4 linked regions of the Homo sapiens genome follow. The main gene of each other region encodes a partner of the protein of the gene in region 3 in a complex. Each region holds a gene or a part of one and is shown on either strand. Other genes may lie near its edges. The genes, in order: CACNG1, STAC3, CACNB2 and CACNA1C.

Region 1 (7,025 bases), on a different chromosome or scaffold from region 3:
TCTGGGCGCAGGCAGGCACGGGTCTGTACTCCCGACAATGGGTGTGCGTCTGAGCTCTGCGGATCCTGAAAAGCTCCCAGAGCCCACCGCACCCTCCTGGTACTCAGGGAGGGATTTCTAGGCCAGGGAGGGACTCAGACTGTCCCTGCAGACTCTAACTATCACATGCCACCAAGAGCCACCACGGGGCTTCTGAGCATTTGTTCCACATCCACACCTCCCGTCACAACAGCTGCCCTTGTGTAGGGGCCTACCAGGAGGTGCTGCTTCTGCAAACGCTCCCTGGCCCCGAGGTGTGGAAGCTCCGGGCCCTGGAGATGGAAGGCGGCTGCCTGGGGCCTCCGGAGCGGGGAGCTGACAAGGCTGTTGTTCAAATGCACCACAGGCTTCTTCTCATCAGGCGTGAGGAAGTCAGTGCTTTTGCCAATGACTTTCTGGCCCAGTGGTGCACAACACAGAAGTCCCCTCTTGTCACCCCAGACCCCTTTCCACCCAGGCTCACCCTTCTGAGTGGTGAATTCGAAGATCTCCGAGCTCTCGCCGGGGTTAAAATGCCTGAAGTAGGAACAGTTCTTCTCTGCAAAGGAGGAGACAGACTGTGAGTTGAGGGGAGCAACCCGTAGCAAGGACAGAGGCCTGGCAGAGAGCGTGGTGTCATTCTGCTCGGCATGCAGGGGGCTCTGGCAGCCTCTCTTCTCCCCAGATCCTTAATCTGGGCTGAAACATCTGTCTTTGACCCTTAGAACAACATCTCAGTGGGATAATGAGGTTGCCTGCAGGGCTGGGAGGTCTTCAGGGAGCTGAGGCTGGATGAGTCTGCAGGGCAGACGGCCTGTGGGTTCTGCACCCCATTAGGCAGACAGGGTAACCGAGGCCCAGGCTCAAGCCATTTTTCAGGGTGTGCAGGGTGCACAATCAACAAAGAACCAAACAGCAGTCTCTGTTGGGGCCGATTCTGCCCCCCCAGGGGACACTTGGCGATGCCTGGGGTTATGGTGGTGGTGAGAGGGGTACACCTGGCACCCAGCCGGTAGAGGCCACAGACGTTGCTGAACATCCCAAGACACACAGGACAGGTCCTCCCAACATGGAATGATCCAGGCCAAAATATCAAGAGTGTCAAGGTTGAGAAACCCTGGATCAACCCCAAACCTGGGACTGTGTTTCTCATCAGAATCCAGGCACACCCTGGTTCATTGGTGGGACCTGGGAAACAGTGTTTTTCAAAAGCTTTCTGGGAGAGCCTGATGTGCAGCCAGGATGGGAACCCTGCTCCAGGCCCCTTAAAATGCCCTGCAAAGGGCTTTTTCCGAGTGGCCATTGGGATGGCCTGGATGCAGATGGAACCCCTACGAGGGCTGAATGTGACCATCATGTGGTTTCACTGGGTCCCTGGTCTTTGCGAGACAGCCCAGATGAGACCTGCCCCCACAAAGCCGCTTGGCCCACCTGATAATTGTCATAAAAGCTATGGAAAGTCTGTGGGCAGTAGGAACGCAAATCTGAATTTGATGAGGGAGAGGGGAGGGGCTCAGCACAAGGAAATTCATGCTGATTTAAAATATAATTTCATTTCCATTTTTCTCTTTCAGTCTCTCTCTCATAGCTAGGTATACTATAAAATCAAAGCACAGGCCGGGCGTGGTGGCTCACACCTGTAATCCCAGCACTTTAGAAGGCTGAGGCAGGAGAATTGCTTCAACCCAGGAGGCAGAGGTTGCAGTGAGCTGAGGTCGTGTCACTGCACTCCAGCCTGGGTGACAGAGTGGGACTCTGTCTCAAAAAAAAAAAAAGCACAGTCTTATTTCTTGCTAAATACGGTTTATCTTCTTTGCTCTTGATTTAGGAAGTGGATGAATGGGTTATTTTATATTATGTTTCCTTCCAAAACTAAATTAGTTTGCTTTTTATTTGTGGAGGCCCTTCATTGATTTCTTTTCCTGTGGATCAGTGACCCTTAAATAGAAAAACATCTCTTTCTCTAGTTGAGATGGTGTCTAGTTTGCCAATTCATTTCTTCACTTCCAGGCTTCATTTAGATGCTCATAAGGCGGTTGATGCCTAGTTCTTTCTGGAAATGTACCTGCAGTGATACCAAGGCTTTTCTTTGGGATGAAGACTTTCTTTAACCGGACCTAAATCATTCTTCTTGCACCTTAAGCCTGTGGTCTCATACCATGCCCCTCCTTCCCCCCAGAGCCAGGGCTGCTGCCTCTCCTGAGGTTGAGGAAGCAAATGACCCCTGGAGATGGGATCTGGTTTAGCAGCAGTACCCATTCCTGGCATAAACAGCCTTCTCTGTGTGCTTCTATATTTAAATCACTTTCCTTTTGAACCGCGTTACCTGGGGTGTCTGACTGCTGGTGGTGATGTCAGAATTGGTGCTCTGCTATTCTCTCTGGGCATCCGGTGCTATTTTAAAGCATAATGCAGATCTCTTCTATTTGTTAGATTATTGGCTGTAGATCTCTCGAATCACTGCTTCAAAATGGCCCATGCTATGTCATAAGTCTCCATGTGTCTCCCTCTGGACAAAGAAACATTTCTGTTTCTGTTTCATTCTTGAAGGGCCAATTTCAGTTGTCAGAATTGACTGAATTCAAGTGTATTTCATGGTCAGCTGCCTCCCTGACTGCTCAAAAGCCATAAGTTAAAATCCTTCCCAGCGGAGGGCCCTGAGATGAGGGCCATGGAGTGCCTTGCTGGGGGCACAGCTGTTTGCACCTGGTGGGTTGCTGAGGTGACTCTCACACAGGTAGCATTTGGCTCACCAAATCCCCACCAGATAAACGCCAGGCTCCGCCTGGCTGCTGGCTGCTTGGATAGAAATGATCTTAACTCAGACACAGGGGTAGGCTACGTGTCTGCAGGAGCCAGGTTGTGAGCTTCTGGGGGGATGCTTTTCTTTTGGTGGTCCAGGTACAGTGTTCCTCCTCCCTCTTCTCCATTAAGTGTCCTCAAATGGAGGGAGGGGGCCTCCAGTGGGTAGGATTCCTTCTCAGGGTAACAGGAAGCCTCAGCTTCACTCTTACATGGCTGAACTGGGGGCCTGAGGACTGATGGGCTGACCTCTCCCCTTTCTTGGGCTTAGCATGTGAAAAAGACCGGTGTCTCCTGCCCTGAACCTGAGAGAAACATCCACTCCTGGGCTATGTGGCTGCCCATTGGAGACCATAAACCCTTTCATGGTCTCTAATGGCCCCTGTAGGGGTGGGGGCACGTCAGACCCAGGCCTCATTTAGGACAAATCAGGCCAGGCATCTGCCCATGTTACTCAAGAGGGTGCAGGGTCCTGTTCAGATGGACAGACCCTACTATGAGCCCCTTCCCTCCCTGCCCTGTTCCTGGGTCTAGGTGGATATTATTTGGGAAACTGAGCATCCAGGGCAACGTAAAGAGGAAGGACATCCGAGGTGGACCCATCTTAGTCATGGGTCAAGAGGAGAGGGACCGTGACGGTCCTGTGCAGACTCTCAGTCTTCCTGCCTCTGCCTCTGGGATGCCCCTCTCTGCCCCGCTGCCCTGGCTTCCATCACACTTACACAAAGCTCAGGGATTGCAGCTTTGCTTCCGACTAAGTCAGCAAAGATTCCAATGCCAGGATGATGATCTGGGGTGTTAGGAACTCTGAGGTCGTGCCATTCTCCTTTGTCTCTGCAGATGGCTTATGCTGATTTTAATCTCCTTATTTCTGTAAGACTCAGCGGTTTAAAAATATTAAATGGGTTATTTATTAAAAATATGGTGAACTCAGCTCTCAGACTTGACTGGGGGATGGAATAGTCTGGCTAACCCAGTGTTCTGGTTAAGGGCATCAGTAACTGTGCAGAACCATGTGTAGTGTGCCAGTTTCAAAGAATTAGAGCAGAAGCCACATTTAGCTCCAAGCTGAACTTGAGTTAATAGGGATCTTTCTTTGATAGTTGGAACAGCTGGCAGGATTAGTGGATGCCTTGGGTTATCACTGAGAATGTATCAGTGTGCCAAGTGACTGTCCATGGAGACTTTCATATATTCAAAGATACTTTGTGGATTTGTCCAAAACCAAAGAAACTGGTACTTTAGGGGTGCAAGGAAGCCTCTAACTTGCATTGATGTCAGTGTTGTTTTTAGCCTTTTGGTAAAAGAAGTTCTATCAGCTCCCAACAGTGGTTTCTCTGGGCTGTGTCTCCTTCCACATCTCTGATTGAAGAATTTTATAAAATGGGCTGGAAATCTCCAAGACCTGACCCTAGAGCTTCAGAGCACTGCTCTTCCATGGGAGAAGCCTGGCTTTGGCCTAGGCCTCTGGCATGGACTTCTGTGGGTGGTGAAGTGAGCCCATGAAATTCCTGGGGTCAGTAGTATCATGCTCTTTTATACAATCCCAGTTCCCGCACTGAGAGAAGATGGACCAGTAGGGAAAATGGGGCACTAGGCAAAGTGGGCCCTGGGGCAACCTGCCTCCTTGCCCTAAAGAGGCAGAGTCTGAAAGAAGCAGCACTTCACCCAGCCCAAGGGCAGGGGATGGCCTCTTTGCGGGTTCATTTGGACTTTCAGAACACATAGTCTCTCCTTTGGGAGAGGCTCCTACTCTCATTCTGGAGGCATTGGAATTGGTCTTGGATGTTGATCTTGTACATGGAAGTCCTTCTAAGACTGTTTGGAGTCTAAGACTGTCTAATTTGGAAAAATTAGACAACTCTTGCCCACTGAGCCTCCAACATTTTAAGACTAAGTGGGACCTTGAGAAGTCTGCTCCACTGCACCAGCTTCTGGTCCAGCTGCCCTCAAACTATGCCATGTCAAAAGCTGGACTCCTTGTGTTCACTTGGGTCAGAGCTTTTAGGAGCTGTGTTTTCATGCACAATAGAGGGTGTGAGAAGGAACTGGAGGGAAAGGAGGCTCTGGATTCAAGACTTGAGTGGAGAACCTCTATTTGTTAGCTGGTTAGCCTGGGGAAGGCTATGCTCAGCCTCCCTGTTCCTACCTGTAGAATGAGACCCACCTGTAGAATGAGAACCACCTGTAGAATAGGAACCACCTGTAGAATGAGAACCACCTGTAGAATGAGACCCACCTGTAGAATAAGAACCACCTGTAGAATAAGAACCCACTCACTGGGTTGTTGTAAAGTAGTTAATGTATTGACTAAAACGGTGAATGTTAGGGTCTGAGTGTGAGTCCTGGCTGCTCTGCTCATCACCTGTGTTACCTTGTCAAATATCTCAACTCTCAGTGGTTGATTTTCTTTATCTGTAAGATTGGGATGATGATAATAGCATGGCCTTCACGGAGGTTTCTGTGAGGATTAGGTGAGCTAATATATGTATGTCATCCCACCACCTTCTGGCCTCCATAGATTTGGGGAAAAATTGGCTGTTCATCTTATTAAGGATTCCTCATATGTGGTGAGTTGTTTCTTTCCGTTTTTAAGATTCTCTGTCTCTATCTTTCAACAGTTTGATTATCATGTGTCTAGATGTGGATCCCTTAGAGTTTATTCTACCTGGAGTTCATTAAGCTTCATAAATTTGTCGATTTTTAACGTTTTTCATCCAATTTGGGAAGCTTTTGGACATTATTTTTCACATACCTTTTTTGCTCCTTTCTCTCTTTCCCTCTCCTTCTGGGACTCCCTTTACATAAACTTGATGGTGTCCCATAAGTCTCCGAGGCTCTCGTCATTTTTCTTTATTCTTTTTATCTGTCTGTTCCTCAGACTGGCTAATCTCAACTGACTTATCTTAAAGGTCACTGATTCTTTTGCCTGCTCAGATATGCCATTGAGCCCCTCTAGTGAATTTCTCATTTTAGTTATTGTACTTTTCAACTCCAGAATTTCTATTTTGTCCTTAAAAATAATTTCTGTGTCTTAATTGATAGTTTCTATTTCATGAGGCATCATTTTCATCTTTAATTGTTTTGATTGTTTTTTCTTTGGATATATTTACTATAGCTGATTTAAAGTTTTTGTCTAGTAAGTCCAATATCTGGCTTCCTTACAGATCTATTGACTTCTCCCTGCCCCATGTATGCCCCTTATCATTTTAGTTCTTTGTGTGTCTTGTATTATTTATGTATGTATTTATTTATTTAGAGACAGAGTCTTGCTCTGTCACCCAGGCTGGAGTGCAGTGGCATGATCATAGTTCACTGTAGTCTCTAACTCCTGGGATCAAACAATTCCCTCACCTAAGCCTTGGGAGTAGCTAGAATTACAGGCACATGCCACCACTCCTGGATATTTTGTGGGGTTTTTTTTTTGTTTTTTTTTTTTTTTTTGGTAGGGACAGGGTCTTGCTATATTGCCCAGGTTGATCTCAAACCCCTGGCCTCAAGCAGTCCTCTCACTTGGCCTCCAAAAGTGCTGGGAATACAGGAGTGAGCCACCACACCCAGCCAGTATTTTTTAAACAATATAATGTGGCAACTCTGGAAATCAGTTGTTCCCCCTTCTTGAAGATTTGTTCCCGTTGTTTGTTTAGTGACTTTTTTGAACTAAGATGGTAAAGTATGTGTTTTTTGTCATGTGTGATCACTGAGATCCCTGTTCAATTAGCTTAGTGACCAATTATAAATTTCCTAAAACGCTTGGCAACAATGCCTCTCCCAGTCTTTACTGAGGGGCTCTGTGCATATGACTTTCATGCTCAGCTAAGCCACCCACATCTCTGCCTTAGCCTTCACTTCCTGCTTGAACAGAGTCTCAAGATAAGGCAGAGAGTGCTTAGGGCCTTCTCAGGTCTTTCCTGAGCATGCATATAGCATTGTGCATGCATGTGGCCTCCTAGATTCCCAGGAATATGTTGGAGCTTTTCAAAGCAACTTATGGACATTTCAGTCTCCAGTTTTTTGGTTAGCCTGTTGTTTTCCCTAACTGTTATCTACTGCCTCAGACAGCCATGATGTTAATCAATCATCTCTAATTATTTTCAACAAACATCCCCAGGGAGAAAGACTATTTGCACTGGATGAGCTCAGAGTCAGGTCAAACAGAAACAGCTTCTCAAGTGGGGGTTTTCAGGGAATCACCAGACAGGTCA
Region 2 (7,336 bases), on a different chromosome or scaffold from region 3:
ATCTATTTGAGCCAGCCTCTGAGTGGGAAGGGAACTATGGAACATATTTCAGATTGATACATTATTGTTAAAGAACATTAGCAAAAGCCACATTTTCTTCATAGCAGTAGCACCTTGTGAGAGAACTGAGGTATAGGTTCTTAGCTCAGAAACCCAGGATTCTGATTCCCTGTCCCTTCTTTCCTGTATCTCTGGGCTAGGAGAATAGAAAGGTTCATTTGTTTTTCTCCTAGTTGCCCTGATCAGAGCTGGGATGGTGGGGAGGGGAAGAAAGGGCTAAGAGAGAAAGGCCAGGCTTTTGAAGACATTGTATACAGACTTAGTCAGCTGGACACTTCTCTGCTGGGCTGCTGTCAAGTCCTTCCTGTCCTATTCCTCTCACAACCATGTCCTCTCTCCTCCCCTTCCAGTCCTGGGGCGGGTGCTGGAGGTGACAGATCTCCCTGAGGGCATCACCCGTACTGAGGCGGACAAACTCTTCACGCAGCTCGCCATGTCTGGCGCCAAGATCCAGTGGCTCAAGGATGCTCAGGGGCTGCCTGGAGGGGGTGGGGGGGACAACAGTGGGACTGCTGAGAATGGCCGCCACTCGGACCTCGCTGCCTTGTACACCATTGTGGCTGTGTTCCCCAGCCCCCTGGCTGCCCAAAATGCCTCCCTTCGTCTCAACAACTCCGTGAGTCGCTTCAAACTTCGAATGGCCAAAAAGAACTATGACCTGAGGATCCTGGAGCGAGCCAGCTCCCAATAAATGGAGGAGGGGAAAGGGACTGTCACAGAAGGAGCAAGGGCAGGGTGGAGGGGGTTGAAGGATCCTGACAGACCATGGACAGAGGCAGGAAGTAAGGAAACTGATGTTAAACTGGAACCTAAGACAGTGATGAAGATGGAAACACAGATACCTACACTGGCATTGGACTCCTTCTTGCTCCCCTGCCATGGGTCCTCTCTTTTTCCCTGGTTGACCCCCCTTGCATCACTCTTCTTCCCATCCTCTTCTTTTTTTTTTTTTTTTTTTTTTTGAGACGGAGTTTCGCTCTTGTCACCCCAGCTGGAGTGCAGTAGCACGATCTTGGCTAACTGCAACCTCCAGCTCCTGGGTTCAGGTGATTCTCCTGCCTCAGCCTCCCAAGTAGCTGGCACTACAGACACGCGCCACCATGCCCGGCTAATTTTTGTATTTTTAGTAGAGACGGAGTTTCACCATGTTGGCCAGGCTGGCCTCAAACTCCTGACCTCAGGTGATCCACCTGCCTTGGCCTTCCAGAGTGCTGGGATTACAGGCGTGAGCCACTGTGCCTGGCTTCCATCCTCTTCTATCATTTTTTTAAATCTCTTCTCCTATCATAAAATTAATTTCTCATTTTTTGGTCAGGTAGAATTGGGAAAGTCCCACACTGTCCTCCTATTACCTTAACATCCCAAGCTTCCTTTCCTTTTTTGGTCTTTATGAATATATTTATATGGACAGAATTAAGATAAACAAAATTGATTGCCCCATTCTCTCACTTCCCCATCTTGTCTTCCTAGACCCCACAGAGTTAAAACTTGGGATTCCCCTGGCCCCCCCAGAACACTTGTATATTGTTTGTTTGAGGTTCGTGCCGCAGTAACAGACACAGTATTTAATTGCACATACAGATGTTTGCTGGGTATATTCACTGTAAATTTTATTTAATCTGTTTTTTTGTTTGTTTGGGGGTTATTTGGGGGGAGGTTGGTTTTGTTTTTAAATATAAAAAAAAAAATCTGTCACTGGACATCAGTCACTGTTTCTCTGTTGCCGCCCTGGTATGGGTAAAGGGTTGGAGGCCCTGGGTAGGTATAGCCCTACAGCTGTTGGAGGTGTTTGTCGTGGGTTGGGATGGCTTTCTCTAGCATACGCACACTATTTTAACACCATTCCCTCTGTCTCATCCTCTTCCCTGTACACGGTTCTGATAGATGGCTAGATCTCTAATGGGACCATGGCTTTGGGCTCTCCCGGTTCTGCCACTGTGGTTCATCGAGCATATCACTTCTCAACTCTGGATCTGTGTCCAGATCAGTAAAATAAGAGACTTGGACTTAGTAGGTGACCTCTAGGTTTCCTTCCAGACTATTAATTCTGTGGTACTGTGTACTCATTTAGGGCCCTTGTAGTTGAGTTTTGAGATAGGGTCTTGCTCTGTCACCCAGGCTGGAGTGCAGTGGCAGATCTCAGCTGACTGCAGCCGCCTCCCGTGTTCAAGCGATTCTTGTGCCTCAGTCTCCCGAGTAGCTGGGATTACAGGCGCGATCTAGCATGCCTGGCTAATCTTTTTTTTTTTTTTTTTTGCTATTTTTGGCAGAGACAGGGTTTTACCATGTTGCCCAGGCTGGTCTTGAACTCCTGGGCTCAAGTGATCTCCCGCCTTGGCCTCCTAAAGTGCTGGGATTACAGGCATGAGCCACCACTCCCAGCCCAGCTCGTCTTCTGAAAACCCTTTAGGGATGGAGAACTTGGGCCTTTCTTTTTTTTTTTTTTTTGAGATGGAGTCTCGCCCTGTTGCCCAGGCTGGAGTGCAGTGGCGCGATATCTCGGCTCACTGCAACCTCCACCTCCCGAGTTCAAGCAGTTCTCCTGCCTCAGCCTCCTGAGTAGCTGTGCCCCATCGTGCCCAGCTAATTTTTGTATTTTTAGTTGACATGGGGTTTCACCATGTTGGCCAGGCTGGTCTCGAACTCCTGACCTTGTGATCCACCCGCCTCGGCCTTCCAAAGTGCTGTGATTACAGGCGTGAGCCACCGTGCCTGGCTGCCTTTCTTTAATCCTAAAGCTGGAGGATTGGGTTTTACCTGTCAGGGACAGAAGCAGATTTTTATTACAATGAAAGCTACAGCAACTGAACTCGCAGTGCCAAGATGCTGTATTATCCAAACATGCTCAGCAGTCCCTGTCCTATGTGGCTGAAAAAAGACGAAGAGCAGAAGTCATCTTGCCTGCAAGATGGAGCTTTTCCTTTAGAGCATCTCAAAGCAAGCCCTGTTGTTCTGCAGCCTGTCAGAGCAGGGCCATTAAAGAACCTGCAGAGTCAGAACCATCCTGCACCCCCTTTTCAAACTCCCCCCTTAAATAGAAAAAAGTAGTGGGTGAGAATGACAAAGCACGTTGCCCTGGAAATCTCTTGGGTCCAAGTAGCTGTATCCCTAACGACGATCCTACAGGAGCTTGCCTGACCCAGTCTCCAACACAGTCCTTTATTTCTTACAGATACAAGGAATAGAGCAGCACTGCATTGCCACCTCTAAATTGCTCTCCCCTGAGATGGGAGTATCTCCTCTTTCATCCATGTCACAGCCCAAAGAGTAGAAGGGTGCACCCCTGTGAGATGAGAATGGCATCTGTCTCTTTGATCCATCAGTTATATACTGAGGCATCAAAGGTGGGAGATGGAATCAGGGAATCAAAAGGGTTTAGGAAGTGTGAGGGTTGGCCATCCTACCTTTAAGAGTTTGCAGTTCTCATGAGGAAGGGGACATTACTTAGAAATGATTTAAAAAATTCCTTATGTGGCAGCTATATGCTTCTGTCCAGTGTTAACTGGCCCTTTTTAATAGCCCTGGTAATTCCCTTCAGTCTGAGGACAAAATTTTACAAGAAGGAGGGTGGGGAGATGTCTCTGGGAGCTGCTGGAGGGAATGAAGCAATACTACATATTCTTCACTTTCTTACAGGATAGCAAAGTACTCCTCCAACCACCTACAGATAAAAAGCAATCTAGCCATGCACGGTGGCTCACACCTGTAATCCTAGCACTTTGGGAGGCCAAGGCAGGCGGATCACCTGAGGTCAGGGGTTCGAGACCAGCCTGGCCAACATGGTGAAACCCCATCTGTACTAAAAATACAAAAATTACCTTGGCGTGGTGGTGGGCGCCTGTAATCCCAGCTACTTAGGAGGCTGAGGCAGGAGAATCGCTTGAACCTGGGAGGTTGCAGTGAGCCCGGATCGCTTCATTGCACTCCAGCCTGGGCAACAAGAGCAAGACTCTGTCTCAAAAAAAAAAAAAAAAAAGCCATCTAGTATGGCTGATAGGAGAGCTCTATGAGTTCAAATTAGTCTTTTTTTACCCTGTCTCAAAAAATAAATGAAAAATAAAAATAAACTCCCCTTAAATGTTAAATGAGCATGAACAGAAACTGTCCCTTCCTGAATTCAGCCATTATTCACCTGTTCGCCTTAGATGAAGAATCAAGGAACAGCAGCTCTAGGGGGTTGGGAGGAGTTAGGGTCCGGCCCTGCCCCAGACCTCTCAGTGTCCAATTTCTCTGTGTCAGCTGTGTTTCTCAGCTGTCCACTTTCCTCCAGCCCTGTCATTTCAGCCCTGACACCAAGGCAGGAGGCTAGGAGGTCTACAAATAGCGACTGGGTAGCTGGTGTGAACACAGGGGGTACTGGGGGGGCTTAGCCCCCAAGGAAGAGGACCAGTTTTTCCCCAGCACCACCATCAAGGCCTCGAGGCTCCCAGCTCCCTCTACAGCCTGTGGACTGACTTAGGGAATCCCGAACGTAAGTTACCTCTTCATCCTCTTGATTTCCACGACTGCTCACCCCAGCTGCCCTGATCTATAATCTACTCAGCTTCTTCATTTCTCTCCTTGTCTGTGAGTCTTTTGGGTTTTAGGCGTAAAATTATTATTCTACTCTAGGATGAGTTTGGATTGAAGCGGGGGGTGGGGGTGGGGGTGGGGTGAAGGGAATGAAGTAGTAAGGGAAGGAAAGGCTCATATTACCCTGAAAACTTAAAATAGCTGAGCCCTGAGGCAGGCTGGGACAGAACTAGGCACAGGGCCCCCAGGGCTCAAGAAAAAAGTAGGGGAGGACAAATGTCTCCAGTCCATCCTTCCTTGTGTGCACACGAGGACACACATTAAACCTCTTGAAGAGAGGAGATCTGGGAAGGTATGCATCACATCTCTGTTGCCCACAGATTTCCAGGAGAAACAAAGTACCTATAGGAAAATGACGTAAACCACGCAGCTTTGAACACTGTGTAAGGGCTGTAAACTATGGGGTCGCCCCTCAGGATGGAAGGATGAGTATCAGTTTGAGGAACTAATTGGGAAGCTCTTTAGTCTGTTGGGCTTTTTTTTTTTTTTTTTTTTTTTTTTTGAGACGAAGTCTTGCTCTGTCACCCAGGCTGGAGGGCAGTGGCACAATCCCGGCTCACTGCAACCTCCGCCTCCCGGGTTCAAGCGATTATCCTTCCTCAGCTTCCTGAGTGGATGGGATTACAGGCGTCCGCCACCACACCCGGCTAATTTTTATATATTTAGTAGAGATGGGGTTTCACCATGTTGGCCAGGCTAGTCTTGAACTCCTGATCTCTAGTGATCCGCCTGCCTCAGCCTCCCAAAGTGCTGGGATTACAGGCATGCACCACCACACCCGGCCATGTTAAGCTTTTTTCTAGACCTCCATGAAATCTGTTAATAAAACCTGCCAAAGGATCTGTATTTGGCCCAGTGCAGTGGCTCACGCCTGTCTCAACAATTTGGGAGGTTGAAACAGGAAGATTGCTTGAGCTAGTTCGGGACCAGCCTAGGCAACAAAGCAAGACCATGTCTCTACAAAAAATAAAAAAGTAGCCAGGTAGTGTGCACCTTGTGTTCCAGCTACTCAGGAAGCTGAGGTAGGGGGATCGCTTCAGGCTGGGAGGTCGAGGCTGCAGTGAGCCATGATCACGCCACTGCACTCCAGCCTGGGTGACAGAGTGAGACCCCATCTCAACAGTAACAACAGCAAAATCTCTCATCACATTTCTCCGAAAGCCTCCCCTTTGAGGACCACCCTACTGCAAGGGACAGAAAGGGAGAGAAGAATGAAAGGGATTAGATTTCATAGTGGGGTCCAACCTCTTGCAGGATGACAGAAAAGGAGGTGCTGGAGTCCCCTAAGCCCTCCTTCCCAGCAGAGACTCGGCAAAGTGGGGTGAGTCTGGGCCTCTGACCACTGGGTGTGGGGGGCTGGGAAGCCATTACAGCTGAAGAAGAGTGCTTAAATTGATCTCATTTGTGTGTGACTCATTTTTTGCTGGCCAGCACCTGCAGTCCCCAATACCAATACCCCCCTAATCCTGGGGTACATTCCTTGCCTGAAACTAGAAAACTGTCTAGTTTGCTCTAGCGCCCCCCTACTCTAGAGAGGGTGACAAGTCCTTTTAACATTGGGTTTTCTTCACTCCCTCCCTCAGCTACAGCGGCTAAAGCAGTTACTCAGGAAGGGTTCTACAGGGACAAAGGAGATGGAACTTCCCCCAGAGCCCCAGGCCAATGGGGAGGCAGTGGGAGCTGGGGGTGGGCCCATCTACTACATCTATGAGGAAGAGGAAGAGGAAGAAGAGGAGGAGGAGGAGCCACCCCCAGAACCTCCTAAGCTGGTCAACGATAAGCCCCACAAATTCAAAGATCACTTCTTCAAGAAGCCAAAGTTCTGTGATGTCTGTGCCCGGATGATTGTTCGTGAGTCATGAAGGGAAGTGAAGAGAGTATGATATTGAAGGCAGAGGTTTGGGGAGAGGGCATAGGAGAGGAGTATTTGTAGCAGATGGGCTGTGGCTAGAGTTGGTGTAAGGCAATGCTATTAGAGATTGAGCAAGTAGGGTCCCAGACAGAAAAGGAAACCTAAGAGTAGCAGCAGTGGTACAAAGGGAAAGGGCAATCTGGAACCTTATCTGAATTTTCTCCCCCTTTCCCAAGTCAACAACAAGTTTGGGCTTCGCTGTAAGAACTGCAAAACCAACATCCATGAACACTGTCAGTCCTATGTGGAAATGCAGAGATGCTTCGGCAAGATCGTGAGTAGGCTGTGGAGAGCAAGGAGGGGACATGGCCACGCGTGGTGGCTCACGCCTGTAATCCCAGCACTTTGGGAGGCTGAGGTGGGCGGATCACGAGGTCAGGAGATCGAGACCATCCTGGCTAACACAGTGAAACCCCGTCTCTAAATACAAAAAATTAGCCGGGCGTGGTGACAGGTGCCTGTAGTCCCAGCTACTCAGGAGGCTGAGGCAGGAGAATGGCGTAAACTCGGGAGGCGGAGCTTGCAGTGAGCCGAGATTGTGCCACTGCACTCCAGCCTGGGTGACAGAGCGAGACTCCGTCTCAAAAAAAAAAAAAAAAAAAGAGGGGACATGTCACCAGCCAGCTACCCCTTGCTGGTCTCTCCTCCATCCCATTCATTTCTCTGCTTTTTCTTTCTCAGCCCATCTCTTTTTCTGAGAAAGGGTGAGCACTCCTGGGAGAGATAGGCTTCTGGACCTTACTTTGCTACCTCTAATGCTTCCTCTCATCCCATCCTACAGCCACCTGGTTT
Region 3 (7,025 bases):
TGATTGCATAGATAAAGGAGAGAGAAGAGAAAGGGCAGAATGGATTTTAAAAGCAAGTTTAAGAGATATAAATATTCAACTGCATCAACATTCATCTCCTTGCTTTCTCTGCCTTCCAAAAATGAAAGCAATTTGACTTGAATTGCGTTCATCTCACACCCATTATTTGAGGGAAACATTACCTTGTTTATTTTATATCTGATAAATCATGGCATCATAGGATTGTGTGAGGCTTGGGAAAGCCATCTCTTCCATCTCTCTGTTTGGGCAGAACAGACCAGCAGTAAAAACTGCCTGAGAAAGGAGGCTGGCTCTAGAGCATCCTCCTTGTATGTGGCACCGAGTAATTCTACTCAGAATTATTGGGCAGTTCTACCTAGAAATGGAGTTTCTATTTACAAATGGAACCTCTAAAGCAATGATTGGTTTTAGGAATCATTCTACCTCACCTCTGGATTATAGTATTATATTTGTATGAAGAAAGCAGAAGATGTAGATTTGCAAACTCTGCCATTTTCCTTTTCTGTATCAATCATTCTGTCTAGAGAGAGGGAGCATCCTGATACATTCCGGTCCCTTTGCCCCAGTACATTGCCATAAACAAAATGATACATTTCTCAAAGCCCTGGTTTTTGTTTTGTTTTGTTTTTGTTTTTGTTCTGTTTTGTGTTTTGAAACGGAGTCTCACCCTGTCACCCAGGCTGGAGTGCAGTGGCATTATCTCAGCTCACTGCAACCTCCACCTCCTGGTTTCAAGCAATTTTCCTGCCTCAGCCTCCTCAGTAGCTAGGACTACAGGCGCCCGCCACCATGCTCAGCTAATTTTTTTGTATTTTTAGTAGAGACGAGGTTTCACCATGTTGGCTAGGCTTGTATCAAACTCCTGACCTCAGGTGATCTGCCCGCCTTGGCCTCCCAAAGTGCTGGGATTACAGGCGTGCGCCACCATGCCCAGCCCAAAATGGATACGTTTCTTACATGGGAAATGAATGGCAATCTAACTGCAAATTCTTGAAAGTCCCCATTTAAGAAAATTGCATTGCTTTTTAGGTAACCTGTTGAACAGTTTCAGCGTGAACCTGGACACAGTCTACTTCCAAAGTCCAGGTGCTCATGGAGGACCCTTTCTCCAAGCTCCAGATCTGTCTGTTCATTGTGGTAGCTGCTAGCCACCTGTGGCTTTTGAGCCCTTGAAATGTGGCTGGTCTGAACTGATATGTGCTGTAAATGTGAAATACACACCAGATATCAAAGGCTTAAGATGAAATAAAGAATATAACACATCTTCATTAGTAAATTTTAAATTGATGACATGTTGCAATGACCATGTTTTGGATATGCTGGGTTAAACAAATGCATTGTTACAATTAATTTCACCTGTTGCTGTTTACCTTTTTAATGTGGCTGCTGGAAAATTTCAGTGATATATTTGGCCATATGACATTTCTATTGGGCAACATTAAAGTATGAAACTGGTAATTCTCCAGGGAATTGAATAGCTCCTGCGTGAAGGTTGGGTGAACGGGAAGCAGGTGACAGGGATTGATAGGTAACAGAAGAGGAAACGGAGGAGTAACAAGAACAGTATCTCAGCACTCTAGGCCTCAGAGAGATTGTCAGTGGCACCTCCAGTCGCACCTGAAACTGAACAGACAGTAACCAGTGGGCCTGTTTGTTTTGCTCCTAGCAACAGGTCCCAGCTGGTCCCAGCCCAGCCGAGTCTGCCAGATGCTTTTCAAGCATGTTGTGGTAATACAGCCTGGTGATGGCAACATCCTGAATGGCTGTAGCAAGGAGCTTTATCCAAAAAGAGTAGCAGCTGTTTTCTAGTGGCTCTTCAACTACATCAACACTGTTTTCCTGAAATATTCTTAGGTCCCGTGTGCAAATGAGTTTTCTGCAGTCTCCAAAGTTGGTGGTTACAGGTCCTGTGCTTTATGTTTTGCTGAAATCTTCACTCTTAACCACCATCACTTTCCTCTTGAATGGTATTTTTTTTTTTCTAATGTGACATGGGAGAAATTTACAGACATGCCAATCAGAATTTCTGAGTATGTTTTAGAATTTGAAATATATCTGAGTGATTTGAGGTTTTGTTGTTCTTACAATATCATGCTCATTTTATTTTTCTCTCTCTTTTTATGTGAAGACTCAATTTACCTGTTGCTGTATTTAATTCCTTTGAATTATATAGCCTTGGCCCTTTCAAGAGAAGCTAAGCAAAATATGTTAACCTCATAGGGGATGGTGATACTCTACAATTTTGTGGCATGTCTCTATCCTACACGTAGTCTAGGTCAAACATAACATAACATGGTTATGTTACAAACTAATTGTAACAATGCATTATTTCACAACTGCAGACAGAGAAAACTACTTATGACATCACTTAAAGGAACCGGGCCTGTCTTACTGATCTTTCCAAGCCTGGCAGGAGGTAGACTGTGAAGAAGGCATGTGTTGTTCCTGGCTTTCTGCTCTCCCTGCCTGTGCTCCTCCTTACTGGGCAGATAGATCTCTGCTTCCTGGCCTCCTCCTTCCTCCCTCCTCCCTCCTGTACCTGCTAGACACCCACCCCCATCCCCAAGAACTCTATTTATGCAGGCTCCTTGTTCCTTTCTGCTTTTGTGTGAACTGAGCCATATTATAAAAGGCAACTTACTTCTCTCTTTTTTCTAGGAATGTCATTTAGCTACTTCTTGCCTAGTAAAGGATCTTACCCTTAGCTTATTCACACTAAGCTATTGGTAAATGAGGAGATTTGATACATGATTTCTCTCTGGATAGTTTTGGCTTTGTTTGTTTTAGGTCATAAGATGAGGAAAGTCTGGAAATTCAAAGGGATAAACATCAATGAATACGAACTGAGAGAGATGGAGACTAATTTTTTTTTTTTTTTTTTTTTGAGATGGTGTCTCACTCGGTAGCCCAGGTTGGAGTGCAGTGGTGCAATCTTGGCTCACTGTAACCTCCACCTTCCATGTTGAAGCAATTGTCCTGCCTCAGCCTCCTGAGTAGCTGGGACTACAGGCACATGCCACCACGGCCAGCTAATTTTTTTTTTTTGTTTTTCGAGACAGAATCTCGCTCTGTCACTCAGGCTGGAGTGCAGTGGCGTGATCTCGGCTCACTGCAACCTCCACCTCCTGGGTTCAGGCGATTCTCCTGCCTCATCCTCCTGAGTAGCTGGTATCACAGGTGTCCGCCACCACGCCTGGCGAATTTTTTTGTATTTTTAGTAGAGATGGGGTTTCACCATGTTGGTCACATTAGTCTTGAACTCCTGACCTCAAATGATCTGTTTCCCTCTGCCTCTACCTCCCAAAGTGCTGGGATGACAGGTGTGAGCCACTGTGCCCAGCCTAACTTTTGTATTTTTTAGTAGAAACAGGGTTTCGCCATGTTGGCCAGGCTAGTGTCAAACTCCTGACCTCAGGTGGTCCACCCACATTGCTTTCTCAAAGTGCTGGGATTACAAGCATGAGCCACCGTGCCCGGCCTAATTTTAAGTGTCAGTATTTTGCTCATGGGAAGTAATCTGTAGGTAGGAGAAGTGTCACAATAACCATAAAAGCACAGAAGCCACATCATTCTTCAGGTTGTCCCCAGGGGCTGCCAAGACAACTTTGAGTGCACGGCTAAAATCTCCAGTTAACTGACAACTTCTGTAATTAATTATTCCTGTCTCCTTCAATCATGCAGCAATTAGATTTTCATTACCTGTGAAAAGGTCAACATTTATTTGCTGATTTTTAAGACTGGAGTCCATTCTTAAGTTACTTCGTGTCAAGGAAGATGGATATTCATTCACACTAAGCTGATATTAACATCATGATGGATTTTGAATGTCTTTTTAATAAGTCATTAATATATTTTTGGAAATTTCTTAAGAATTTTTTTCCCTAGTTTCTGAAATCTTAGCTTGATGTTTTGGAACAACTAAAGGAATATAAATATAAGAGTTTTTTTTTTCTTTTTACTGTGGTGACATAATTTGTTTTAAGCTTCATATAGCTAATAGCAATTAGTGGAAATTAGTGACTTTTGGGACTCTTTCAAGAAGGACACAGAGACCTGCATGTGTCAGGGAGAATCTATAGGTAACACCTTGTACTACAGCCAAATCCCCTTTCCTGTCTCCCCTTTTCCTTATACAACCTGGGCTGCACTAATGATTAACTGTTTCAGATATTGGGCGTTCATATATTTTAATGCTGGTAAAAAATATTTAGAAAAACTGTTCACAAAAGTAGCTGCACTTGAAGTAGCAAATTAACTAAAACAATTACATATATTTTTTTTTTCAAATTTAGTCAGCTAAATATTTGAACACTTAATCTTCCCTGTCTTTTCCGTTTGGGAGAGGTTTGGCCTTCACTTTTTTCCCCCCTTAATTCCTTCAGAAGAAGTAGTCTAGTCCTTATTTTCAAGGATTTCAAGTAACTGAAAACCAAATCTTTCGAGCAAGATGGACTTAATTTTAAATACACATTAGATTAAAATAAATTTAATTTTGTAATAGCAGGATGAATTTTCACTAACATTTTTAAAGGTATATGAAAATGGACTATTAGCTTTCCAAAGATGCTTTAAATGTTTTTTTGTTTTCTGATCCTGACTGTTATTATAATAACAAAATAACTGGTCAGTAAGTAATCACTCTACAGTTTTTTAAAAAAAAAGAAACTTTAGAAGAGAAATTCCTGTGGAAATTAGTAAAATAACAGAATAGAGATATAATGAAGCATATATATTTATTTTGTCTTTTAATATGATATATGATAGGGATTTGCTCTAACACTCTTAAGGCATGAGCAAATGAATACTTTAAATAAATCATCCCTTATACACTTAAGTAATTGAAGAACAATTTTTTTTCTCAAAACTATCACCAGCATGCATGCAGTTCAGTGTGCTATAGTTGTTTGGTGTATAAACTATCTTAGTACAGTTGAAAACTGTAATAATTTCATTACATATACTTTGCATAGGTAGCTAAGTACGCCTGAAATAACATTTATGAACAGGATTCCCAGGGGTCTGGAAAAATTAATGTGAGTTTTTAAATGTGTTCAACTTCTTGCAGAGAACAGCCACCTCCTCTGTGACTGAATGTCTTCAACATTGTGTGGCTCTCACAGTGCCTGTTGTACAATTGTAAGCAACCACAAAAAAGCTTACACATTCAAGAAGTTGGATAATGAGACATATTTATCACTAAAATGCTAAAATTAAAGGACAATAGAATTGCGAAGATACTCTTTTCTGTTCATTTAAAAACGGTACTGGAGGCTGGACATGGTAGCTCACTCCTGTAGTCCCACCACTTTGGGAGGCTGGGGCGGGAGAATTGCTTAAAGTCATGAGTTCAAGACCAGCCTAGGCAACATAGTGAGACCCTGTCTCTACAAAAAACAAAAATTAGCCAAGCACGGCAATGTGTGCCTGTAGTTCCAGTTACTTGGGAGGCTGAGGTGGGAGGATTGCTTGAGCCCAGAGGGTGTGGGGTGTAGTCAAGGCTGCAGTGAGCCATGATCATATCACTGCACTCCAGCCTGGGTGACAGCACAAGACACTGTCTCAAAAAAAAAAAAAAAAATGGGATGAGATTATATTTTGTCTTTGTTCTCAAAGATAATTCATGTTCCTCATGAGGATAAACGGTGAATTTAACAAAGATTGTCGCTACACCCCCAAAGAAACAGGCCTTAAAAATACTTTCTAGGTAATAAGTATTTTTGCACATAGGTTAATATAAATTTAAAAGAAAATTTTAAAGAGATTTTCATACTTTATTTTAGCCTTCTTAGGCCTTAGAAAATGCATCTGTCCAAACCTTTACATAATAATTGGAAAAGAAAAAAAGTGGTTAAAAGAATGTTATTTTTCAACAGTTTACTGAATAATGTTTACACAAGTAAAAAGAATGAGCTGTTAACCGAGGACAACCTTGTATATTACATTATGAAAGACCAGCGTAGCTTTCTTGCCGTTTATGAAGTTGAGAGTTAATTAAATGTCATGGAAACACATTTGTATTATATAAATCCCTTAGATACTCTGAATAGAACAAACATATATAAGAAAATTTTTTGCTTTAAGATGATACCACCCTCTCACTGATAGCAAATTCGTCTAAATTACTCATAACGCAAATGTTTGTAATAGATTTCAGCTTGCCTAAGTGCTACATATATTATGGCAGATATTTTAATGAAAAGCATATGAATAGAGAAAGCATAACCAAATAGCATTTTGAGAACCTGAATGTGATGATTTTAAAAATAAATGTTGTAAATTTTGATAATCTAAGGAAGTCTCTATGAGCCTAATAATTGTCAACATGTTATACGCTTTAGTCCAGTTTGTTTCCACATCTTCCAACCCCTGTATAGGTATCACTTTTTATGTATTACTTTGAGTCCTTACCATGTGTTAGATCTTATGCTAAATGCTATAAATACATTATTTCGTTTCATACTTAATCCTATGAGGTATTATTTCATCTAATACTTAACCCCATTTTAAAGATGAAAAGATTGATGCTTGAAAAAGTTAAGAAATTTGGTGAAGATTTGCTATGTCCAGGATTCTAACCTGTGTGCTACATTTAACTCTAAACTCAACTGTTAAGCTATTGTTCATTTATATTTTAATGTTTAATATTTGCCCTTACTGCATCTATGCTTAGAATTAAACATAGATTGATGTGTAGTTTATTCTTAGGGTTCTGAATGTAAACATAATAGGAAAAGCAAGTTCATTTTTAGATGTTTCTGCTTGGCCCAATCCTATTATCGAAACAAATCATCTTACCTTTAACTTCCTGTTTTAAATGCTTATTTTTAAATGCTTTATCATTACAGGCTTTTGCCTCTTGCCTGCTAACACATTTATAAGACGACATCCATTGTTTTAATTCACTAGTTATTAAATGCTTTGCCAAGAAAACCCTCCTCAGCCGGGTGCAACGGCTCATGCCTGTAATCCTAACACTTTGGGAGGCCAAGGCGGGCGGATCACCT
Region 4 (7,025 bases), on a different chromosome or scaffold from region 3:
ATAGGGGTTAGAGTTTCAGGAGACAGAAGAGGAGTCTAGGACTGCCTCAGAAGATCAGTAATGGTGACGAAACAAAGAGTCGAGAACCAAAAAAGTTGTCAGTGGCGGGGGCTGTGCATTCCTCTCTTCCCGACATGCTCTGAGATGTGGAATGCACCAGTCCTTGCTCCCTCACCTTTTCCGTGGAGTGTGTGCATGTGTGAGTGTGTGTGAGTGTGTGTGTGTGTGTGTGTGTGTGTGTGTGTGTGTGTGTGTTGAGGGTCGAACTGGAGACTGGAGGTCAGTGCCTGGGAACAGCCTGGAAGTTCATTGAAGGACCAGCTTCTGACCCTGGGTTTCAGGCTGGGGTGGCACACTCAAGCCTTGCCTCGCCTCTGGTGCCCTGTCTGCTCTGGGCCTGTGCCAGCCTCCCACTTTTCTGGGCCGATTTTCTATTGCAGGCTCCAGCTAGCAAATGAGTGTCTTAATAGTCAACCATTGAACAAATAAAACACCAGAATGTCCCTTATCTGCTAGAGACAAGGCAGAGGGGAGAAACATGTGTTTGGGGAGTGCAAGACACACTGTGCTTTTCTTTTAACTACTTAGCGATTCAGCAGAATAAGAATCACTGTAATAAGGTAATAATAATAATGATCACAGTTAACTTTCTTTACAAATGGTCAGAGAACAACATTGCTCGCACATCAGCTTGAGCAGGTTAAAGAAAGCTGTGGCAATAGCTTTGCTTTTTCTTGATCCTGCATGGAGAAAACTGGAGGAAAGGGGCTATTGGAGTTCATCATATTATTCCTACTATTGGTCAGGCACTTTTTAGTGTTTTAGAATATGACAATATATTAAAAAGAGTCAATTTTTCATTATTTCCATAGAATACACACTAACAGTATTTAAGTGTGTGTGTGTATACATACACACATGGAATAAGGAAAAGCTATTTTAAATAGATCACACGAGAGGCTAATGCCCTTCAGGGACCTGGGGTGTTGAGAGAGAAGTATTGATAATGCAGTCTCCTAAGACTGTTTAAAGATTTCTTCTTCATAGTAAAGGGAGACTTGTTCTTACAGGTAGATGCTGCAGGCACAGTGCTTTGTAAATGAAATGATGAGCCGTTAGCCCCGTGGGACCATCTCTCAGTCTTGGCAATGACCTAGGTCTCTTCAATTTGTTCTTCAAATAAAACTGCTTGAGTTGGGTTCTTCTGTAAGACCTATCAAAGGGATCCAAGGAGCATACTGACTGGAGATTTCGAGGCCCTGCTCATCTTGGGATCCCTGCTTCCTAGTACAGGCCGCTGCTCAGTCCAGGGCCTCGATGCAAGGCTGAACAAATAAATGTCTGCGTGAATGAATGAATGCGACCTGGCCAGACCTGCAGTAGATGTGGCTTCTGCCTCTTCCAGTAGGTGGCGCCACAGGGCTTAGGAGTCAGGAAAGGGGCTTCAGGGTCCGCCTGGTGATGAAAGGTGTAGGGGGAGTTTAGAGCTTGTGACCTGTTGGGGCTGTGCTGCTTCCATCAGGCCCACACCTGCCCCGGCACAGGTAACCCAAAAGACCAGTGTGTCTCCGTGCCGCCGCACACACTGGAGGCCCTCGCGGCATCACTGAGGGACCCAGGTCCCACAGTGACCTCTCCACCCTGTTGTAATGAGAACTCCTTTGGAGCCCACCCAGTCCGTCGCAGGCTCTTCCCACAGACGTCTGTTCCCTTCCAGCACAGACAGCATCCCGCCGAGCCTGGAGGAAGCCTTTTGGGTGAATCGCTGAACTTGGTATGGCCAGATGTTAATTTTCTCCCTGATTTTTCACTGATGGTTTAGTAACCAGAGGGCCCGGTGGTGCCCAAGCCCAGTGGAGCATGGGGTGACCTGAAGCATGGGATCTGGGAACCCAGACCTGTGCAGTCACAGAGCTTGCCAGCCAAAGGCAGGAGGACATTTTCCTAACTTTAATAGGGAAAAGAACACAAAAACAACTGGGTGCACTTCACAGTTGATTTCCGTTTATGAGTCTGCCTGGATCTCCTGCTGGGTAATGGCAGAAAAGCTCAGGAGACCCAGGTTAGGAAGTAACTGAGATTTGTTCTAATTTCCAGTGATGTTTTCCAGCGCCTGGCATTTTCTTTTCTATTCCTTTCTTCACTCGGTTTTCTTAGTTGTGTGGCAAGTTCCATGAGGTCTGAGAAGCCCTTGGCACTGTGCTAAGAAGGGGTGAGTGGCTGGCAGCACTTTCTTCCTTTTACAGTAATTCCTCCCGCCTGATACAGCAGCTGTTTGTTCTGTAGGAGGTACAGGTCAGCCGGCGTCATCTCACCTCTTCCTTGCTGGGACCCTGAAATCAGTGCTGAGCATTCAGATTTAGCAGACAATTTTATTTTCCAATATGGACTACAGAAAGCTGATAGACTGTTTGCGAAACACCTGGAGACTTAACAACAAGCCTAATTAACAAAATAATCACACTGATTTCATCTGTTTCTAGATTCCATCCTCACAGTTGCCTAGGTTAATGTTGGGCACTGTGGAGGAGAACAGAAGATTGGTTTTAAAAAAAAAGGCATGGGGAATTGTTTTGCAACATATCAGGTGCCAAATATTTAGGGACAGAAGTGCTAAACATTCTGATAATGAAATAACACTCTGAGCCATGGCTGTCATTATTAAAATAATTTAGTAAACACCTGTTTACATGTACCTCAAGGTTAGATACCACGTAAAACAAGTAAAAGTGACAGGATCCCTCGGGGAAAATGGAATGGAATGTTTTTCGGTGTCATTTCGAAGCCGGGTGTGTAGACTTAAACTGAACCCACTGCAGAAAAAGCAAAATGGAAGGCTGAAATAATGAATGCCATCATTTGAACTGAAACCTGGGCACTCCAGAAGAGCTCTTCTCTGTGTTTTAATTCCTAGATGGGGTGCTTATTTGCTCAAGACCAGGCTTTCCTGAGCCTGTGTAGACACGGGCCTGGAGCAGGTAGACAGACCCTCTTGGTTTCTATAGTTGAGGCACCCCTGGAGGCAGCTGTTTATCATGGCAGGAAGGGAAGTGGATGCATTCTCTACTGCCCCCTTTCCCCTGCCGAATTCAGGCAGGACCCGCGCAGGTCCCTGGAGAACCTTGCTTCAGTGCTAGCTGTGTGTACCGTGTGGGCAGGACCCCAGCTGGGAGATGGGGAGCCCAGGATGACCCCACAGAAAAGCAGAGCTGTGAGATGGCTGGAGCCTCCGAGAGCTGAGATGCAGAAGGTGAGGGGAAGCCAGAGGAGCCCCAACTCCCTAGGGTGTCTGGGAGGGTTTGGGGAACAAGGTCATCAGGGTAGTCAGTTACTCCTTGTGGAGCTGAACTGAATTTAAGTTGGGATTGTAGGGACTGTAGGAGAGAAGTTTGGGCCTGGAGCTCAGGAGTCGGACCGAGGTTGAAAATAGACCCTTCCTTCCCTGGAAGCCGAGGGAACTAGAGGAAGGGTTCATCTGGCTGAAGCAGAGGGTGAGGAAAGCGGGGGTTAACTGGCAAGAAACCCAAACCTCTCAGCCCCTCCCCTCCCCAAAACCCCACAGAACAGTTCTCTGCAAAACACCTTCACTTTAAAATGGGCTTCTTGTGCTATACCCTGTGTGTATAGGGGGCAAGGGGCTAGGCTCTGGTTCGTTAAAGGGTTTGTCAAACATAGAATAAATGTAATGTCTCTTTGGGAATTTACTTTCTAGGATCAGGACATTTTATGGGTAAAGGAACCTTAGAGACAATCCTCATTTCCAGTTGAGAAAACAGAGGCCCCTAAAGGTTCATGGAGGCAGGGATGTAACTAAATACAAGGTCTTCAGTCTCTTCATCCTCCTGCCTGTACCACACTTGGTGCTGGCCCCCTGAGAGAGCATTGTTAGTGCTTCTGGCTAAATTTTGCTTGGTAGATCTTTCAACCTCTCTATTCTTCCTCCCCCTGCCTCCACCTTTGTACTGCCTTAAAATAATTTCTGCGATGTTAGATTTAGGAATGGAGTTGGAAGGGTGGGGTGGGGGAAATCTATCATTGGAAAGGTTTAAAAACACTTTCTTAGGCTACAGAGTAGAAGTTCATACATGTCCACAAGAAACTCCTGCAAAATTCAGATCACGATTTTGTCTGCAAACAGATCTGCCTCTAAGCCTTTTTTATTTGCTCACTTCCTCTCGGCCCCAATCTAGGCTTGTTTCAGCCCCTTTGCGAGAGTGGGATGGGGATGGGAAGCCGGGCTGTGCTGTGGGACTTCCCTGGTGAGCTGCTGGGATTCTTCATGGACCAGCTGGCATTACCAGTAGCTGGGGTATAGACACACAGATCAGCCCCAGGGTAGAGACTGTGAGACAGGCTGCCACAGACTCCACCTGAGCTGGGCGACCAAGGGCGTCTTTCTGCTCCCATGTCAGGGTTGGTCTCCTAGGACCCCCGGCCTACTCCCAGGAGACATTCCCAGCAGTGGTGGTAGACTCAGCCCATGGAAGAGAATCACTAGGACCTGCCTCTGACATTCCCATCTTCCTTGAAGTGTTCATTGGCTGACTTGTTTCATACTCTTTCAAGTCATCTCTGAGAAACTGGAAGGCCTCTGAGGCTGACTCGGTCTAGCTTGAAGACGGAGGCATGAGCCAGGCTCATGCTTAGAGATGTGGCTTTTGAGTTCCCTGGAGGAAGCCATCATTTCAGAACATAGTGTTGTGATAATTTCATGAAATATTCAAGCTGCCAATTTGCCAACAGGGGTTTCTTTTAATACACTCGGCTACACTTGGTGTTGCCCACTTGAACCTAGCTAAAAGGAAAATAAAATAATCTTGTCTCCTGTCCTTTAGAGAACCAAGCCAAAATCTAGACAGTGAATGAATGTTCTTCTCCATATTGCCTGTGGGCAGAAATGTTGACTTGAGTACTCAATTAAGCTCTATTTACTTTATAACCATTGTGTCATGTACAGTCATTTATATTCCTTTCTTTCTTCCAAAATAATCTACGTTGGGCTAAAACCTTTCAAAGACATTAACAAAAGTAACAAAGTAAATAGCTAAAGAATAAATAAGGCTGTAGGCTAGAGAAATGACTTGGGTCTTGGGTCACATTCTTTGACTTCATCTCTTTCTCTGAGAGTTCAGAAGGAATCAAATCCCTTTTTTTTTTTTTGTCTGTAAAGTGGAGATAATAATCCTTAGCCAATTCACTTCGCAGGGCAGCTGTGAGGATCCAAATAGGAGAATGAGTGTATATCGCTGTTCAAACATCAGCTACTCTTATTCTCCCCATCAGCGAGCAGAGCACCAGAGTTTGGAAAAGCAACGCCATGAAGTAACATTCACAGCATTTCAAACAACTTTGGAGGTGTTGTGGGAGGGCTGACATTATTCAATATTTTAAAGGTGAAAATGTAAAACAAAGAGAAACCAGAGTCTGAGGTGGTCTGGCTGATACCAGAATAATCAGGGAGGAAGTGAACCATTGGTTGAGATGGGCCTGGTATTTTGCCCTCCAGAGAGTCTAGGAGCCTGTGGCCAGTAGGCTCCCAGGACGGTGGAGCCATGTGCACTGCTGGCACTGCTGCTGTTTCCAAGCTGAGGGTGAGGACATGGGGATGCAGGGTATCCGACGCCTGGCAGCTGTCCACCTGCCATGCTGCTGTCCCCTCACTGCCACCACACATGGCTGCCTGGCTTCGGCCTCAAGTCCAAAGCCACGCTGGCCTGAAGTCCTTTCATGGCCTGAAAATAGGGCCATTGAGGGCAGGAAGAACACCACCTGGGCAACCAATGTCTCCTCACTTTTGAACGTGAATTCCCCAAACCTAAACCCAACTTCCCAGTACAGGAGGACGGGCTGGAAAATAAAACTTTGCTTCAAAAGTAAACTTTGGGTTTGGAAAATAAACTTATTTATTTTTCATAGCCAAAATGTTGCAGGTTTGGAGATAGAGGGGACAGTTCTGTGTAGCTCCCTAAGACACTGATCAAAATAGGAAAGAGCTTTAACATTATAGTCTAAGTGACAGGATTAGTTTTAGTTTCCCAAAGCAAAAATAATCCCATCATCAAAAAGTATGCTGGGAAACTTTCGCACTTTCGCATTTGTTTGCACCTTGTTCTACCCCCAGCTCTGGTCCTGTGATCTGTGGAGCCATATATGTTTTAATTTTTCTCTAAAGAAAAAAAGCTGTATTGAGGTATAACATCTACCTTGTTATAATTTTAAAATAGAGCAAGAGTAATAGCCACCATTTATTGAATGCCTAGCATGTGTTAGACAATGTTCTTGGTGCTTCATGTGCTTAATATGTTTTATCCTTACAGTAATCCTACCACGTGGGTTTTAATTATATTTTTTAGATAAGGAAACTGAGGACCAAAGTCTTAAGCAATGTGGCCACAGCCACCCAGACAGTGTTGGGGCTGGGAATTAAATTCAGGTCTGTCGGACTTTCAAAACATTTGCTCTTTCTGTTACTTCTCCCCATGGAGAACAGTAGAAAGAGAAACCCACTATCTCTCTATCCTGGGAAAATGACCTTGTCCTTGCCTTCTGGAACCTGGCTTAGATTTGCCTTGTGGAAGCTCAGAGCTGGAATCCTTGTTCTTACTTGATGGCTGCATGTTGTCGTGGTACCCCGCCTCCCCTCCTGGTCCCGTCCTCTGGCTTTCTTTCCCCTTATTCCCAGGGTTTCTGCCAGGGCCCTCCTTGCTTCTTCACATCTCCTCACAGGCCTTCACAGACCACCTAGGTCAGTACACCTTGTCTCCCGGGGGACCCATTTGTGGCATGGCCTTGCTTCACCACCCATTCTTGGAATATTTCCTCAGTCACTCCCTCCAGGAAAATAGACACTCTCCATTCTCAAACGAGATTCCCGTGAGTCCCGGGGACCATCCCTGTAAGCTGAGCTCTCCAGACTTCATGCATTATTTATTTATTTATTTTGAAATAGCAGCTTTGTTGAGGTATAATTCGCATACCGTAAAATTTACCCTTTTGATGTGTATGATTCAGTGGTCTACCTACTT

What was found.
Region 1: CACNB2 (region 3) and CACNG1 share a complex: the UniProt entries of both Homo sapiens proteins name them as parts of the calcium channel complex.
Region 2: CACNB2 (region 3) and STAC3 share a complex: the UniProt entries of both Homo sapiens proteins name them as parts of the calcium channel complex.
Region 4: CACNB2 (region 3) and CACNA1C share a complex: the UniProt entries of both Homo sapiens proteins name them as parts of the calcium channel complex.

Annotation. Positions count from the first base shown.
Region 1 is NC_000017.11:67,047,548-67,054,572, reverse strand, and holds part of CACNG1 (voltage-dependent calcium channel gamma-1 subunit), read right to left. Parts: intron 578-7,025; coding exon 503-577; intron 1-502. UniProt on the Homo sapiens protein: Regulatory subunit of the voltage-gated calcium channel that gives rise to L-type calcium currents in skeletal muscle. Regulates channel inactivation kinetics.
Region 2 is NC_000012.12:57,248,188-57,255,523, reverse strand, and holds the start of STAC3 (SH3 and cysteine-rich domain-containing protein 3), read left to right. Parts: upstream 1-4,336; 5' UTR 4,337-4,531; intron 4,532-5,793; exon of another isoform or gene 5,794-5,886; 5' UTR 5,887-5,887; coding exon 5,888-5,953; intron 5,954-6,215; coding exon 6,216-6,483; intron 6,484-6,720; coding exon 6,721-6,818; intron 6,819-7,325; coding exon 7,326-7,336. Other genes in the region: R3HDM2 (R3H domain-containing protein 2), read left to right, coding at 411-751. UniProt on the Homo sapiens protein: Required for normal excitation-contraction coupling in skeletal muscle and for normal muscle contraction in response to membrane depolarization. Required for normal Ca(2+) release from the sarcplasmic reticulum, which ultimately leads to muscle contraction.
Region 3 is NC_000010.11:18,143,423-18,150,447, forward strand, and holds part of CACNB2 (voltage-dependent L-type calcium channel subunit beta-2), read left to right. Parts: intron 1-7,025. UniProt on the Homo sapiens protein: Beta subunit of voltage-dependent calcium channels which contributes to the function of the calcium channel by increasing peak calcium current. Plays a role in shifting voltage dependencies of activation and inactivation of the channel.
Region 4 is NC_000012.12:2,055,984-2,063,008, forward strand, and holds part of CACNA1C (voltage-dependent L-type calcium channel subunit alpha-1C), read left to right. Parts: intron 1-7,025. UniProt on the Homo sapiens protein: Pore-forming, alpha-1C subunit of the voltage-gated calcium channel that gives rise to L-type calcium currents. Mediates influx of calcium ions into the cytoplasm, and thereby triggers calcium release from the sarcoplasm.